Regions from separate parts of the Homo sapiens genome. Here region 1 is linked to region 2. A link means that fine-mapping ties the variant in region 2 to the expression of a gene that starts in the linked region. Tissue or cell type: whole blood. Region 2 holds a variant in brackets; the other region holds the start of a gene. All regions are shown on one strand. Distances are between the middles of the regions. Region 1 holds the start of SRPK2 (SRSF protein kinase 2). Region 2 overlaps SRPK2 (SRSF protein kinase 2).

What was found. PIP is the estimated chance that this variant, and not a neighbour inherited with it, causes the effect.
Region 1: it holds the start of SRPK2, and the variant in region 2 is fine-mapped to the expression of SRPK2 in whole blood (TOPMed, PIP above 0.99).

What each region holds. Positions count from the first base shown.
Region 1 is chr7:105,387,549-105,390,459 of GRCh38, forward strand. SRPK2 (SRSF protein kinase 2) reads right to left here and starts at 1,373. Exons shown (of 16, transcript NM_182692.3): 1 at 1,243-1,373; 2 at 1,100-1,154. The coding sequence starts at 1,258. RefSeq lists silencers at 524-623, 724-843, 1,184-1,313, 1,344-1,413, 1,424-1,473 and 1 more.
Region 2 is chr7:105,345,573-105,348,483 of GRCh38, forward strand. The region is part of intron 2 of SRPK2 (SRSF protein kinase 2); the gene reads right to left. Among named protein-coding and RNA genes, the nearest start is that of SRPK2, 42 kb to the right of the region's middle. The variant C/T (reference allele first, on the strand shown) is at 1,469.

The sequences.
Region 1 (2,911 bases), 42 kb after region 2:
CACATTTTGTGAAACTGAAGGACCAAGGCCAACGAGAAGGGGAAAAAAGTGAGCGTGCTGCGACGTACCCCTCAAAGGAAACAACCAAAAATGTTTCTGGATTTTATTAAAGATAATGCTGGATTCTCGTTCCCCACAGTACCAAAGATGCCACACAGAGTATTCTTGCTCAAAAGAGCGAAGCAATTAATCTAGAGGAAGAGATAACGATGTCGAACGCTGGTAAATCAAAAAAATTAGGAGAGAGGAGTGGAAAAGGAGAAGACGCGGCGGCGCTGTGCGGTCTCGGAGCAGCTCTCCAGGAAAGGGTTCTTGGGCAGCGGCCCCCCTGCTCGGGTGAGCGGCCAGGCTGGAGGTGGCCGCCACGGGCGCGTTTTCCACTCCGACCGGCTCCCGCGCACACGCCCACCGCCCTGCGCAGCCCGCGACCCCGGCGCCCGCAGCGCACCCAAGTCACGCTCAACCCGAGCGGAAAGTTTCGAATCCAAACCCGAGAGCCGAAACGCACAGGTCTCGGGGCTGAACTCGCGCCAGGAACACGCCCGAGGCAAACCACTTGACAACCAGCTTAGGTTCTCAGCAGAAAGGCCGACAGGCGGGGGCCGGGGAGGAAGGGGAGGCGAGACACACGCCCTCCCGCACACTCGGCCCCTCCGCCTCCTCGGCCCGCGGCTCAGGTGGGAGCAACGCAGCCGCTGCACTCCCGCAGCGGGCGGGCCGGAGCCCAGCGGCAGACGCCGGGGCCCCTTCCGGAAAGGGCCGCGACCCCCGGGCCAGCTCGCGGGCAAGGGACGGGTGCGCACGCCCTGCCCGGCGCCTTTCCGCCGGCCTCCCGCCCGCCGGCCGGTGGCGACCCGGGGCGGGAGGTCGCGGGGTCGAGGCTCCGTGATGCTAGGGAACCGGCCGCGGCCCGCGCGCCCCTCCCCCGCCGCCGCCCCTCCCCCCGGGCCGCCCGCCGGGGGCAGGAGCCGAGCGCCAGCGTCCCGGGGGACCAGCCCGCCCGCCGGCCCGGGGACCCGGACAACTTTCCCCTGCGCGGCCGCGGGCGCCCCCGACGGGGCGGGGGTGGGGAACGGGGACAGGCGCAGCGTGGACTCACTTTTTCGGATGTTTCTCTCTTTTCGGCCTCCGCTTTCGGGCCTGAATGGCCAGCACTGGGGAAGAGAAGACACACATTAACGGTCGGGCCGCCCGCCCGGGCTGGCCGCGTGGCGGGGAGAGGGCGCGCCGCGGGCCACTCACCTTTCCGGGAGCTCATTCCGACGCGGCGGAAGCGGGGCGGGGGGCTTCGCGACGGCGACGCGGGCGCCGAGACGAGCTGGGCTGCAGCCTCCACTCGCTCCGCCGGCCGGGAGGAGACGAGAACCGCGCCTGCGCCGCCGCCGCCGCCGCCGCTCCAGCAGGGACCCAGCAAGACCCGCCCCCGTCCGGCCCCGCCCCCGCCCCGCCCCCACCCGCCGGCCCCGGGGGTCGGGACCCCAGCGCCGCGCGCCCAGCGCCCCGCGCCCCCGCCCCACCCACCTGTGCAGAAGTGGCCGCCGCCCATGGCCGCGCTGGCCCTCGGCCTCCCCCACCCCAGCCCGCGGCCCGGGCCTCCGCCTCCTGCGATCCTGCGGCTGGCCCAGGCCGCCCGCCTCTCCCGGGCACCGGACCCGCGGGACCCTCCCTCCCCGCCGCGGCCTCTCCCCTCCGCACCCCGGCCGGTCGCGCCGCCCGCTGCTCCATGCGCCCGTCCTTGGCCGGCGCCTCCGCGGGTCTCGCACCACCTCTCTTCCCGCGGCCTCTTCTCTCCCTTTGCTCCTCTACATCCTTGCAACCCCATGAGCGCCGCTTCCTCCTCTCCGGCAGGCGTGGAAAGGGCACACGACCAAAAGCTGGGAAACCTGGGTCCGCGATTAGCGGTGTGACCTTGGAGAAGTCATTTTCTCTCCCACCTCTAAGTGCCCTCCAGGATTGCATGAGTTTAATGAAGGAAAAGATACAGATAGCATTCAAGGTAGGACAAAGGTTTTGCACATGAATTGAAACTCGCTTCCGTAAACACCAGGTGTATAACAATTCAAAACAACAATCACACCAAGTAGTTATTTTCTGCATCCTACAATGAGGAAACTGAGTCCCAACGAGGTTAAAAAGTTTAACCAGCCAGGATCGAAATTCAGGCCTGGCCGTCGACAAACCACCTTATCAGGCTGCCTACAAAAGATGTGAATCAAGTTGATAGTGACACAAAAAGATAACTGCAATGTTCTCTTATTTATGTAAATAATTACAATAGTTTTTGAAAGATACGCATTCTGACTATTAACTCCCTCATTGGTCACACAACTGTATCTTTGACAAGGTGGCTTACACTAAGGATGATAAATCAGAACGGGAAACTCTGCTTGGATTTTGAAGAGTCCTTAACTTTTTATATTCAAAAAAATATCAAACCCTATAGAAAAGTTACAAGGAAAATACAATTAACAGCCAAATTAACCCATATTCACCAATTTTTAACATTCTGCCACATTTGCTATCTATGTGTCTGTGTGTATGGTTTATTTTGCTGAATCACTTGAGTTTTTGTAGACACTGTTACCCTTTATCCCTAAATATTTCAGTACATATCTACTAAGAATAAAGATAATCTCCCACATAATCAGAATTCCATGATCACTCCAAGAAACTTTCATACTAATACAATGTAATCATCTGTAACATACAGGCCATATATATTCAATTTTGCAAAATATCCCAGTAATATCCCTTGTCGCTGATTTTCTTTTTTTCCCAATTAGTCTACCATTAAGGATCATCCGTTGCATTTAATTGTCATGTCTTTTTAAACACCTTTAGTCTAGAATCATTCTTGGTTTTGTGTTTTGGTTTTCTTTCTATTTATTTATTTATTTTGAAATGGAGTCTC
Region 2 (2,911 bases):
TACAGGGAATAACATGAAAGACAACTGAAACAGCTTATCTTTCAAAGGATGAAAACTTCTCAAACTCGTTCATCTATATATTCATTCATATTTATTTTACACATGAACATGTCAATGTGTTTGGAATACAAGTAGGGCAAGAAATTGGTGTCCAAAACAGACATGGTCTGTGAGCTCTTGGGCCTATGTTGTTCTACATCTGCTCTTTCCATTATCATAGCCATCAGCCCCATGTAGCTATTTAAATTTAAATTAGAGTTAAATAAAATTAAAAACCGGTTCCTCAGTCACACTAGTCACACTTCACATGGCCAAGGGCCAGCTTTCAGCTATGATACTGGACATCACAGATACAGAATGTTTCCATAATCACAGAAAGTTCTGTTCGGTAGCAAAGGTTTAAAACGTTACATACTTCCCTCTCTCTGCTGACTAGACATTAAGATGAAACTTAACTTCTTTCTTTTAAAAAAGAGTGCAAAATTTTACTGCTGTCTTTTAGGGAAGTACCAGGTGACAGTCTTTCTACAGGTGTACTTTATATCAAAGCTGTAAAAACTTCTAAGGTTTTCTAATCCAGCAAAATAATCACCAAATGCCTTTACCAAGGTTTTAAAGTTTTTTAAAAAATTCCTGGAGGTAAGTATTTCATCATCAGTAACTATTCCAATTTACTAATTGGCTTCAAACCATTCTCAACTGCATTCACAACTGCAGTATTTCCTTTCCTAGAAAGTGAAGGATTCTGCACTTAACTGATTATCACATAACTCTCTATGATGCAGAAAACAGCTCCTGCTTGTCACCTCTGCATGGTGACTGGAACACAGAGGGTACTCAAACAACTGTTATATGAAGGTCAATAAACTGTAAGTCTCCAGCACTGTCAAAAGCAACACAAGGCCAGGTGCAGTGGCTCATGCCTATAATCCCAGCACTTTAGGAGGGCAAGGCGGGCGGATCACGAGGTCAGGAGTTCAAGACCAGCCTGGCCAATATGGTGAAACCCTGTCTCTACTAAAAACACAAAAATTAGCCAGGCATGGTGGTGTGCGCCTGTAGTCCCAGCTACTCGGAAGGCTGAGGCAGAAGAACTGATTGAACCCCAGCAGGCAGAGGAGGTTGCAGTGAGCCAAGATCGCACCACTGCACTCTAGCCTGGGTGACAGCGCAAGACTCCATCTCAAAAAAAACAAGCAACAACAACAAACCCACAAAAGCCACATTCCATTTCACAACTCTAGTTACTGATGGAGCTTCCAGTCTTTGCTGCTTCTCATTTGTTAAAAAAAAAAAAAAAAAACTTTATTCACTGCATGATTTAAGCAGCACCAAACTGCTTGGGTATCGGTTTTCTGGGTCCCTGAAAATCAAGGACTTACTAAACAGTAAAAATTCTACATGAAGAAATAAAATATTGCACACTGCCCGGGAACCATAAAATTAATATAAATTAATTTATCTTTTA[C/T]TTGGCTATGAGATAGACTGGCTTTTTTTTTTTTTAAGATTAAGGTTTCATTCTGTCACCCAGGCTGAAGTGCAGTGGGCATGATCATGGCTCACTGAAACCTCCACCTCTGGGCTCAAGCAATCCTCCCACCTCTACTCAGCCTTCTAAGTAGCTGGGACTACAGACATGTGCCACCGCGCCCGGCTAATTATTTAATTTAGTAGAGACAGGGTCTTGCTATGTTGCCCAGGCTGGTCTTAAACTCCTGGACTCAAGCAATCCTCCGGCTTCAGTCTCCCAAAGTGCTGGGATTACAGGCCACCATGCCTGGCTAATTTTTTCTTTAATTTTTGTAGAGACAGGTCTCACTAGCCCAAGCTGGTCTCAAATTCCTGGACTCAAGTGATCCTCCCACCTCACCCTCTCAAAGTGCTGGGATCACAGGAGTGAGCCACCATATTGACCACAGACTGGCTTATAAATATGTGTAACTACAGTGAGATATTCAGCCGAAGAATGAGGGGGAGGGGGAGGAGGAGGAAGAATTATGGCTGGGCATGACGGCCCATGCCTATACTCCCAGCACTTTGGGAGACTGAGGCGGGAGGATCGCTTGAGTCCAGGAGTTTGAGACTTGCCTGGGCAGCCTGGCAAGACCCCCATCTCTGCAAAAAAATTTTAAAAATTAGCCAGGCATGGTGGCACAAACTTGTGGTCCCAGCTACTTGGAAAGCTGAAGCAGGAGAATTGCTTGAACCCAGGAGGCAGAGGTTGCAGTGAGCTGAGATGGCACCACTACACTCCAGCCTGGGTGACAGGGCGAGACTCCGTCTCAAAAAAAAAAAAAAAGAAAGAAAAGCGGTAGCTTGCACAATTAATTCTAAATTACATTAACAAAGACATCTCAAATGTCTCAACTACTCATGAAAGACAGCTGTATCAAAATTGCACATTTCCTTGAAAACAGAAATCAAAATGTTTTCAAATTAGTCCATACCAGTGACATATACCATTAATATTAATGAGAATATGGCTGCTTGGCAAACTTTTTTTTTTTTTTTTTTTTTTTTTGAGATGGAGTTTCGCTCTTGTTCCCCAGGCTGGAGTGCAATGGCGCGATCTCACTGCAACCTCCGCCTCCCGGGTTCAAGCGATTCTCATGCCTCAGCCTCCTCAGTAGCTGGGATTACAGGCATGGGCCACCACGCCCGGCCAATTCTGTATTGTTAATAGAAACGGGGTTTCTCCATGTTGGTCAGACTGGTCTGGAACTCCTGACATCAGGTGATCCACCCACCTCGACTTCCCAAAGTGCTGGGATTACAGGTGTGAGTCACCGCGCACAGCAGTCAAACTTAATAAGCCACTATTTGGTATAAAATGCCTTTGAACTTTTTTCTTTCTTTTTTTTTTTTTTTTTGAGATGCAGTCTCGCTCTGTTGCCCAGGCTGGAGTGCAATG